Linked DNA regions of Homo sapiens: region 1 is linked to region 2. The links come from fine-mapping of genetic effects on plasma protein levels. Region 2 holds a variant in brackets. A gene starts in the other region. All regions are shown on their reverse strands.

Region 1 (5,362 bases), not on the chromosome of region 2:
AAGAAAGAAAGAAAGAAAGAAAGAAAGAAAGAAAGAAAGAAGGAAGGAAGGAAGGAAGGAAGGAAGGAAGGAAGGAAGGAAGGAAGGAAGAAAGAAAGAAAGAAAGAAAGAAAGGAAGAAAGAAAGAAAGAAAAAAGAAAGAAAGGAGGGAGGGAGGAAGGGGGGAGGGAGGGAAGGAAGGAAGGAAGGAGAAGGGAAGAAAGGAGAAGGAAGAGAAGGAAGAAAATATGGAAGAGGAAGTATATTTACTATTCATTAAGTAGAGAATCATCATAAAGGTCTTCATCCTCACCGTCTTCATGTTGAGTAGGCTGAGGAGGAGGAAGAGGAGGGGTCTTGCTGTCTCAGGGGTGGCAGAGGTGGAAGAGGAGGAAGGGGAGAGGAGAGGCAGGCACAGTCCATGTAATTTTTATTGAAACAAATCCAGATATAAGTTGACCCTCACAGGTCAAACCCATGTTGTTCAAGGGTCAACTGTACTCCGTATGACACTCTAGTGGTGGACATATGTCATTATACATTTGTCCAAACCCATAGAATGTACACCACCAAGAGCAAACCCTAATGGAAATGATGAACTTTGGGTGATAATGATGTGTCAGTGAAGGTTCATCGATTGTAACAGATATACCATTCTGGTGCTGGATAGTGATAATACGAGAGTCTGTGCATGTGTCAAGGCAGGGAGTAGAACTCTCTGTAACTTCTGCTCAATTTTGTCACGAACCTAAAACTGCTCTAGGCCAGGCATGGTGGCTCACGCCTGTAATCCCAGCACTTTGGGAAGCTAAGGCAGGAGGATCCCTTGAGTCCAGGAGATGAGACCAGCCTGGCCAACATAGCGAGACCCTCATCTCTATAAAAAATTAAAAATAGAGGCCGATGCGGGTGGATCACCTGAGGTCAGGAGTTCAAGACCAGCCTGGCCAACATGGTGAAACTACATCTGTACTAAAAGTACAAAAATCAGCCGGGAGTGGTGACGGGGACCTGTAATCCCAGCTACTCGGGAGGCTGAGGCAGGAGAATAGCTTGAACCTGGGAGGCAGAGGCTGCAGTGAGCCAAGATTGTGCCACTACACTGCAGCCTAGGCAACAGAGCGAGACTCTGTCTCAAAAAAAAAAAAAAAAAAAAAAAAAGCCTGTAATCCCAGCACTTTGAGAGGCCAAGACAGGTGGATCACCCGAGGTTGGGAGTTTGAGACCAGCCTGGCCAACATGCTGAAATCCCGTCTCTACTAAAAATACAAAAATTAACTGGAAGTGGTGGACGGGCACCTGTAATCTCAGCTCCTTGGGAGGCTGAGGCAGGAGAATCACTTGAACCTGGGAAGCAGGGCTGCAGTAAGCCAAGATTGCACCACTACACTCCAGCCTGGGTGACAGAGGGAGACCCTGCCTCAAAAAATAATAATAATAAAATAAAAAATAAAGCTGGGTGCAGTGGCTCACGCCTGTAATCCTAGCATTTCGGGAGGCCGAGGCAGGAGGATTGCTTGAGGCCAAGAGTTTAAGACCAACCTGGCCAGCATATCAAGACTCCATCTTTAAAAATAATAATAATAATAAAACTGTTCTAAAAAAGTCTTAAAATTATTTATCGGCCGGGCATGGTGGCTCACGCTTGTAATCCCAGCAATTTGGTAGGCCAAGTTGGGTGGATCACCTGAGTCAGGGGTTCAAGACCAGCCTGGCCTACGTGGCAAAACCCCGTCTCTACTAAAAATACAAAAATTAGCCAGGCATGGTGGCGCATGCCTGTAACCTGAGCTACTTGGTAGGCTGAGGCAGGGAGGCAGGAGAATTGCTTGAATCTGGGAGGTGGAGGTTGTAGTGAGCTGAGATCGTGCCATTGCACTCCAGCCTGGGTGACAGAGCGAGACTCCGTCTCAAAAAAAAAAAAAGTTATTGATGACTTAGATTTTCAACACTGCCTTAAATTTTGCGGCAAAGAGGATGCCTCAACCTAGTCCCTGCCTCAGCCCACAACCTTCATATGGTTCTACCAGGCAAAGCTCCTATCCCCAAATCCTGGGAAACGAGCTTGGAGGAGGACATTGTCTCTTACTCCCATGGGAAGTGTCCCCCATTCACTCTATCACTTAGCACCCTACATCCTGAGCTTCCACTATGTGCCCAGCTTTTTTCTGGGAGGTCCCCAGAAAGAGGACACCTGAGGAGGCCCCAGGGGTGGCCCCCAGGGGAATCCCAGGCCTGGCTCAGGCTGGACATTCCCAGGCCTGCCCTGGCTGAGTCTCCAGCTGGTGGGTCTCCTGGAAACTCCCCGGGCTGGTTTTGAGGTGGGAGCCCCACAGGGAAGCAATTTACATACACAACAGCCCAGTCATGTCAACCTGCCCCATCTGATGCCAGAATAAAGGGGAGATGGGTCCATTCTGCAGGTCTCAGTCATGGGCACCCGGAGAAGAGGAAGGACATTTCACTGTCAGCCCAGGTGAGTCCAGAAGCCAGCTCCTGGAACAATGCCAGGGTCCTGAACACTCAAGCTCAACCCCTGCTCTCAGCTACTGCTGGTGGCTTGAAATCAAGGGCTGGAACTGGATGAGAGGTGACAGCCCCTGGTCCCCATGGGCTCAGAGCAGGCCTCAGCAAACACTGTCCTCGGCCCCTGCACCCATGCTCTGCCTGAGCCTGAAGTGTTGGTTGCAAAAAAAAGCAGGAGGCAGTGCCAACTTCAGGCCTCAGCAAACACTGTCCTCAGCCCCCGCACCGATGCTGTGCCTGAGCCTGAAGTGTTGGTTGCAAAAAAAAGCAGAAGGCAGTGCCAACTTCAGGCCTCTGCTTCTCTCCTCTCCCTCAACACAGCCGGTCTTACCAGTACAGCAGGCGGCAGCTGAGAGTCCCCTCTGGTGGCCAGCAGCGGCTACAGAGCCGTCACTATGGGGAGGGACAGGACTTGAGGGGTTGCCTCGGTCCACCTCACTGGAGAATGGGCAGAGTTTATGGAGTCTGAACCACCTGGTCTCCAGGCCCCTCTGGGGATGGGCCTGGCTTACTGACCACTGACCTCAGCCTAGGAGGGACAGAAGAGACTGGGGGAGACCAGGATGCCCAGATGACCTTGACCCAGGGTACGCTGCCCCATGTCCCTGCTGCCTCCCGCCCACAGCTCTACGAGAGGCAGGTCTGTCATTCGCCGCTGGACTTTGACAGTGGTCAAAGGCTCTGCTCAGTTCTCTGTGCCTGTCTCCCTCCAGCACTGCCGAGGTTCTCTGCCGAGGCCAACCAGAAATACCCCTTGGAAGCTGGAATCCTGCAACAATGGCCCAGGGTGTCCTCTGGATCCTACTCGGATTGCTACTGTGGTCAGACCCAGGGACAGGTGAGTCAGGGGGCAGAGTCCTGGGACCAAACCTCTTGGCTCTGCAGAAGGCGTACTGCTGTCCCATCTATGTCTTGCCCTGCATGGAGTGAGGCTGGAGACTCAAGCTCTCAAAGAAGCTCCAGCATGGGGACATAGATATTCCCAGCTCCACAGAGTCAAGGCAAGGATAAGGGAAGGAATCTGGGGCCTGGAGAGCAAAAGTAGGGAAGGCTTCTTGGAGGAGGAGACATAAGAGCTAGGCTAGGAAGAAAGAGAAATGATTTGGGGGAGAAGCCAGAAAGGGCATTTTTTGCAGAGAAGAGCAAAGCTACACAGGTTAGGTGGTGGACTGGAGAAGAACCTAGATTCTAGACCAGGAGAGTGTGTCGAGTAAGACTTCCTGGATTCAAATTCTACTACTGGCCAGGCCTGTAATCCCAGCACTTTGGGAGATCAAGGCGGGCAGATCACTTGAGATCAGGAGATCGAGACCAGCCTGGCCAACATGGTGAAACCCCATCTCTACTAAAAATACCAAAAATTAGCCAGGCGTGGTGGCAGGCACCTGTAATCCCAGCTACCCAGGAGGCTGAGGCCAGAAAATTGCTTGAACTCAGGAGGTTGCAGTGAGCTGAGCACTACTGCACTCCAGCCTGGATGATAGAGCAAGACTCCGTCTCAAAAAAAAAAAAAAAAAACAAAGGCAAATCCTGCCTCTGCCACTTCCTTCCTGTGTGACCTTAGGCAGGTAACTTAACCTCTCTGTGCTTCAGATGCCTCATCTGTAAAGGGACACCATCTTAGTCCCTTTGTGCTTCTATATAGGCCAGGGTACCTGAAACTGAGTAAATTTGTAAAGAAGAGAAATTTACTTTCTTGCAGTTCTGCAGGCTAGGAAGTCCCAAATGCCAGTGCTTTGATCTTGGACTTCCCAGCCTCTAGAACTATGAGAAATAAATGTCTGTTCTTTTTTTTTGTTTTTTAGACAGAGTCTGACTCTGTCGCCCAGGCTGGAGTGCAGCAGCATGATCTCAGCTCACTGCAACCTCCACCTCCCGGGTTCAACAGATCCTCCTGCCTCAGCCCCCCAAGTAGCTGGGATTACAGGTGCCCGCCACCGCACCCGGCTAACTTTTGTATTTTTAGTAGAAACGGGGTTTCACCATGTTGGCCAGGCTGGTCTCAAACTCCTGACCTCAAGTGATCCGCCTGCCTCGGCCTCCCAAAGTGCTGGGATTACAGGCATGTGCCAGCACACCTGGCCAAATTTCTGTTTTTCATAAATTACCCAACCTCAGAGATCTGTTATAGCAGCACCAATGTACTAAGACAGGGGCTAAAAGGACCTACCTCACAAGAGTTGTGAAGACTAACTGCGTTAAATTATTAATATATAAGTCACCTAGACTAGTAGCTAGCACATAGTAAATGTTTACTGAAAGTTAGCTATTATTTGATAACCCATCTCTGAACCAGCTCTGAGCCTAACTTAGCATTTCTAGGTTTGCAGTTCAGCCACTGACATTTCCCCAACATGGCACAAGCCCATCCTGCTCTTCCCCCTGCCTCCCAGGCTATTTTATTTTATTTTATTTTATTTTAATTTAATTTTATTTTATTTATTTTATTTTATGATGGAGTCTCACTCTGTCACCCAGGCTGGAATGCAGTGGGGGGTTCTTGGCTCACTGCAACCTCCACCTCCTGGGTTCAAGCAGTTCTCCTGCCTCAGCCTCCTGAGTAGCTGGGGTTACAGGTGTGTGCCACCATGCCCAGCTAATTTTTGTATTTTTAGTAGTGACGGAGTCTCGCCATGTTGATCCGGCTGGTCCTGAGCTCCCGACCTCAGGTGATCCACCCGCCTCTGCCTCCTAAAGTGCTGGGATTACAGGCGTGAGCCACTGCGTCTGGCATTTTTTTTTTTTTTTTTTTTTTTGAGACAAAGTCTCACTCTGTCACCCAGGCTGGAGTGCAGTGGCGCAATCTCGGCTCACTGCAACCTCCACCTCCCATGTTCAAGTGATTCTCCCGTCTCAG
Region 2 (5,322 bases):
ACTCCTGGGCTTTGTGGCCTTGGAAGAGTGAATTGACTGCCTGGGGCTCAGTCTCCCCAGCTATAAAATGGGGCATAAGAGAGCCGTCGCATGCCAGGGTTGCCGTGCCGCCTGAGCACACAGGCCTGCAGAGCCCAGGACGTGGTTGGGCTGTTGGGCTTATTGAAGGTTGAAGAACTTATTGAAGGTTGAAGAGCTGGCTTGAGAGAACTCGGGGCAAAGGGGCCTTTGGTGCCTAGTGTCACACGGAAAGCACTGCCTTGGGCTGGACAGCCAGGAACTGTCCGGGCTCTGTGGGACCCCAGGCCCCTCTCAGAGCCTGGGTCTCCCCTTCTGTGTGAGGAGGATGCCCTTCCGGCAGGGCTCTGGGTGGCCCTGGGGTGCTGGCCACCGACAGTAAGTGTGCTCCCTGCCCAGGGGTCCCTGGCTGGCCCTGCCAGGTTGGGGTGCCGCCAGGCTCTGGGCTCCCCAGGGGCAAGCATCTCGGAGACTCAGGACCAGCTGAGCCCCCACCAGTCGGGTCCTGGTGGGGCGGGCACCAGCTCACCTGGCAGGCGTCGGACTTGCAGTCGAAGTAGCCGGCACAGAGCATGTTGGGGCTGATGTCGGCGCCGTAGACCTCAGGGCTGCTGCACTTGTGGTCGGCGACCAGGGGGACCAGGGCCTCCCGCAGGGAGCTGGAGTAGCCGCTCACGTCTGTGGGACACAATGCCCTCAGCGTGACACCCACACTGTGGCTGGCCACTGTCCACCCTGGCGGGGCGCTGGGCGCCCCCCTCCCAACTCACTCTCATCCAAGTGGCCCCAGCCCGCAATCTGGCACTTGTGTCCTGCGGGGAAGGTGCTGCCGGGCTCGGGCAGGCAGATGGGCTGCACGAACTGCGAGCGTGTGGCACAGCGGTCCCCTTTCTTCTTCAGCCGGATCAGGACTGATCAGAAGAGTGGCCAGGGTCAGCCTGTGGTGTGCGGGCTGAACGGGAGGCTGTCGGGGCCCGTGGTGGAGGGAGGGTAGCCAGTGGGGTCCACAGGGCAGCCTGGGAGATCCAGAAGGGAGCGGTGCCCTGTCCTCCCTGCCCTGCCCCCAGCTTCCCCCGCACCACATGTCTGCCCAGCTCCTGCCCCTGTCTGGGCCTGGCCTGGGGAGCACAGGGCCCACCTGCCCAGAGTGCAGCCACGACACGCCGGAGCTCACCGAGGTCGTGGTCGCTGGGGTTGAACACCGAGTACAGGGTGTACGGGATGTACTTCTCGATGCCGAAGGTCTGCGTCACGTCCGTCGTGCGGTTGAAGAAGTGCTGGCCCAGCACCACGGAGACGCTGTCCCTGGGGGGGCTGTGCAAGGGGGGCTGGAGGCTGCATGGACCAGCCCTCCCCCAGCCACCGGGCTCACCTCTCCCCACCCCCTGTCAGGCCCACGGAGGCCAATGGTGTGGGACCCTGGTCCCGGGGAGGGGTCTGAGCAGGTGCCTGGGTGTGGGCTGTTGATACTGGGGAGACAGGGACCACCAAGCAGGGGCTATTGCCAGTCACCCCCAGATCCAGGCATGGGAGCTGAAGTGCGGTGCCATCCCTCCTGACAACACTGGTCACAAGCCCTGGGGGGAGTCTCAGGCCAAGCCCAGGCAGGATCGGCTGCAAGGCCGACCCGAGTGGGTGGAGACCTGGCCTGCTCAGGCCCTGCCCCAGCTTCCATCCACATTGTGGGGTCCCCAGATGCAGCCCTCACTCCTGCTGGGCACAGAGCCTGGGCCCCTGAGCCTGGCTCCCATCTGCTGTGTGGAGGTCGCTCCACCCTGCCTCGGCCTCCTGCCCTGGGCTCCATGTGGGGAACCCCATTTCTCCACACTGAGGAAGGCTCTGGCCCCATTTGCAGGCCCAGGAGCCGCCGGCTGCAGGTTCTGCAGGGCCACGCAGGACCCCACCCTGGGAGCTGTGGTCCTCGAAAGGCCGCCAGACCCTCGGCTGGCCGGACCCCTGCCCCTAATCACTGGGGTGCCCATCGAAGGTGGAAGGGCGTCTGGCCCAGGCTGCTCCGTCTCAGGGTCTCCCCACTCGAGGCCCGCCTCCCAGAGTGTGGGCCTGGGTGGCTGTGCGCCCCCACTGAGGGGAGCCGGCTGAGTGGGCTGGGCCTCAGTTTCCCTGGCTGTGCTTGGGCTCCTAGGGCTCTGACGCATTGTCACTGCGCTCCCTGGCTCCCTACTGAGAGCCAGGACTCTGGGAGGGGCGGGGCCTGCGGGGAGGACAGGACCTGGCCCACTGCACTCTCCGCAGGCGCTGGGTCCTCTGTGGAAATGCCACTGACCCCTGGCCTCCCTCAATAGGGACAGGGTTTCTGGAGTGTCCATGCATGCCCAGCTCAGGACTGAGCCCCAAGACCCAGAGGGGTCAGAGAGGGTTACCGGGGACCCCGGGAAGGGGTCAGCAGAGGCACCGGGATGGGGTCCGCAAGCGGGTGGGGACAGGCGCATAGTGACGCTGGATGGTGTGTGGGGCCTCAGGGCAGGTGACTGGGGCCCAGAGGAGGTGCACCTGTGGGAGAAGCAGTGGGCGGCCGACACCACCCAGCAGGTGTGGACCAGGCTCCCGGCGCAGAAGCTGTCCCCGATGTAGATGGCGGCCAGCCAGGGGTGCGAGCCGGGCAGCGAGGAGGAGCCGCCGATGATACGTGGCCGCAGGAACGTCCTCTTCTTGTGCCTCCTGCCGCAGGCCTGGCGCCCCGGGGAGGCTGGCTCAGGCAGGGTCGCCAGGAGATCCGGTGACAGTTGGACTCTGGTGAGGGATTCTGGGAGCAAAGGTCACCGGGTCACACCCCTGGGGTTCACAGGGCCAGCCCCCTTCCACACACAGGCCCTACCCGGCAGGAGGCGCTGCAGAGGGCCATGGCCGGACCCCCTGTCCACGCTGCTCAGGCCCTGGCGCCCACTCACCTCTGCCCTCAGTTTCCAAATCTGTAGAATGGGGTTTGATGCCCGATCCCGAGGCTCTGTGAGGGCCAGAGGGGCTGGACACACGGAGGCCTTTGTGGCCCCCTCAGCAGCCCGGAACCCCACAGCCAGCCCCAGCACAGTCAGAGACCCCCACATGAGAGCCCCGGGCTGGCCCCGCCGGGGTCCTAGGGAGCCGGGGGGCCTCTCCCCAGGGCAGGAAGCAGGTGGCCTCTGGGGGGCCTGCACGCTGCCCTCCCTGCACCTCCCTGAAAGGCTTCTGCGGCCATCCTGGGCATGGTCCAGGCTGGGCAGGTGCCACCCCGAGGCCGTCGCCTGGTGACCAGCCCCCTGCAGCGGGCTGCTTCCCCACTGTGACCCCAGTACCGACCCACTGCGTGACCTTGGACCAGCCTGATCCCGTGAGCTCCAGTTTCCCCATTTGTCAGAGATGCAGTAGCCAGGTGTGC[G/A]GAGGGGCTAGGAGGATCACGGGGAAAACTGCTGTGACCTCGGTGGGGCCCAAGGCAGCACCCCCCGCCAGCCGCGCACCGCAGGCCTCCAGGCGGCAGTACTCCCAGGAGAGCGCGCTGTCCTTCACCACGTAGCACCAGGGCCTCTCGTCATTGTCCGGATTCCTGCGGTGCATAAGTGGGGGCTGGCAGGGAGTCACACTGCCCCTCGAAGAGGGCATGGGGAGGGGGCATCGGAACCCCCAGCAGGGCGGTTCCCCGCACCTGGAGCAGTGGGAAGAGAGTGGCCCTCCCTCGGGCAGCCTCCCAGGCAGAGGTTCCGGGGCCTGTCTGGACGGAGCTGGCCCCGCCTGGGTCCTAGGGAGCCGGGGGGCCTCTCCCCAGGACAAATCCTGCCTGCCCCGCATGCGGCGGCCTGGAGCGGCGTGGTGCTGACCGGCAGTAGGCATGGGGGCCCAGGCCCAGCAGGGCCGCGGCGCCCACGGAGTCCACGTGCAGCTCCTGGTAGAGCAGATCGGAGTTCCAGGCCAGGCAGCTGAGGCCCGAGGCTGAGGTGCTGGCCACGCCACGGTACCCAGTGCCGTTCCCCAAGAAGCAGCGCTCATCAGGCTCTGCGGGCAGAGGGGCAGTGAGGCCGGCCCACGGTGGGTCCACCCGGCACTGCCCCAGGGCACCCCGGGGGGCTGACCCACTCACCGATGTTGCAGAGCCGTCCAGCGAAGCCTGGTGGGCAGGCACACACGGTGGTCCCGGTGGCCACGATCAGGTGGCAGGTGCCCCCGTTCAGGCAAGGGCTGCTCAGACAAGCTGGGGGCAGGGCCGAGGAGCTGGGCCAGGGGCCGCGCAGTGCCCCACGACAGCGGAGTCGGGGCCGGGGTCCACCCCTTGTCCCTTGTTTCTGGGTGACCTCAGGCCATTCCTCCCACTCGGGTGTGGACAGGGACACCCGTCAGGGGTCAGTGGCACGGCTCACACCCCGTGGCGCACCTGTATGTCGGGTGCCTTCGCACCAGGTCCGGCCCCCGAAGCACTCGCACTGTTCCACGTGGCCCTGGCGCACGCGGGCCCAGCGGTCGCCCCCCTCCAGGTACTCGTAGCGGGTCTCATCAAAGCATTTCTCTGAGGGGTGCACAGTAAGCCCTCACACCCTGCCACCTGCTGTCCCCGTGCAGGGCCCCTGCCCTGCACTCGGGAGCCACCTGTTCTCCCATCCTCCGGGGACTTGCTCCGGCCCCTGGACCCCTGCGGACCTCCGAGGCCCAGCTCACCTGTGCCGCAGTCCTTGCCGGTGAAGGCCCGGGGGCAGCTGCAGTGATAGGACTGGGGGTCCTGGGTATTGGAGCAGGAGCCTCCATTGAGGCAGGGGCCGGAGGCACAGGGATCCAGGGCAGCTGGGGACATGCGGGAGGGGGTGTGAGGGGCGGACTGGGAGGCTCAGGGTCCCTCTGTGACATTCTCTGCTTGCTAAGGCGTCCATCAGGCCCCAGTGAGGGGCTCTGAGAGCAAAGGGGCCCTCTCTACGCCCCTCGGGGTGCAAGGTCCCTGGGAGGGGCACAGACCTCCCCTTCCTCCCAGCGTCCCCCACTCAACACCTGGGCCACTGGCCCAGCTGTGCACGTGGCTTCCTGGAAGCCTGACACCCACACTGTCAGGCAGCAGACCCCTCCCATGTGTCCCAGGACCCATGTGAGCAGGGCGGCTGGCACCGCACCCCACAGACCCTGCCCACCTGTCCCCTGCCTGGGGCACGCCTGTGTGGCTGCAGGGCCCGGCCTCACCACCAGGCGGCGCCTTGGCCCCAGCGATGGCCGCGCAGCCACCATGAGACGCAGGTCCCACCTGGGAGAGGCTCTGGCCCTAAGTGGCACCCACCGGGGTTAATCCCAGAGCTCCTCTTCTGCTCCCCTCCAGCCAGGACCCCTGCCCGG

Direction of the effects. Alleles are on the strand shown, and positions count from the first base shown. The strength of an association depends on the size of the effect and on how common the allele is.
For the plasma level of the protein whose gene starts at base 3,153 in region 1, allele A in region 2 goes with a lower level than allele G (weak association).

What was found. PIP is the chance, under the fine-mapping model, that this variant and not a neighbour inherited with it causes the effect. Protein levels are from antibody-based Olink assays in UK Biobank. Linkage for the fine-mapping came from a reference panel and not from the study's own genotypes, which makes the PIPs less certain.
Region 1: it holds the start of PGLYRP2, and the variant in region 2 is fine-mapped to the plasma level of the PGLYRP2 protein (UK Biobank, PIP 0.94).

The regions. Positions count from the first base shown.
Region 1 is chr19:15,477,292-15,482,653 of GRCh38, reverse strand. PGLYRP2 (peptidoglycan recognition protein 2) reads left to right here and starts at 3,153. Exons shown (of 5, transcript NM_052890.4): 1 at 3,153-3,343. The coding sequence starts at 3,283.
Region 2 is chr4:3,443,502-3,448,823 of GRCh38, reverse strand. It overlaps HGFAC (HGF activator), which reads right to left. Exons shown (of 14, transcript NM_001528.4): 5 at 4,663-4,785; 6 at 4,382-4,513; 7 at 4,091-4,201; 8 at 3,831-4,005; 9 at 3,474-3,559; 10 at 2,530-2,782; 11 at 1,193-1,332; 12 at 789-929; 13 at 548-696. Among named protein-coding and RNA genes, the nearest start is that of HGFAC, 4.2 kb to the right of the region's middle. RefSeq lists a silencer at 5,277-5,322. The variant G/A (reference allele first, on the strand shown) is at 3,395.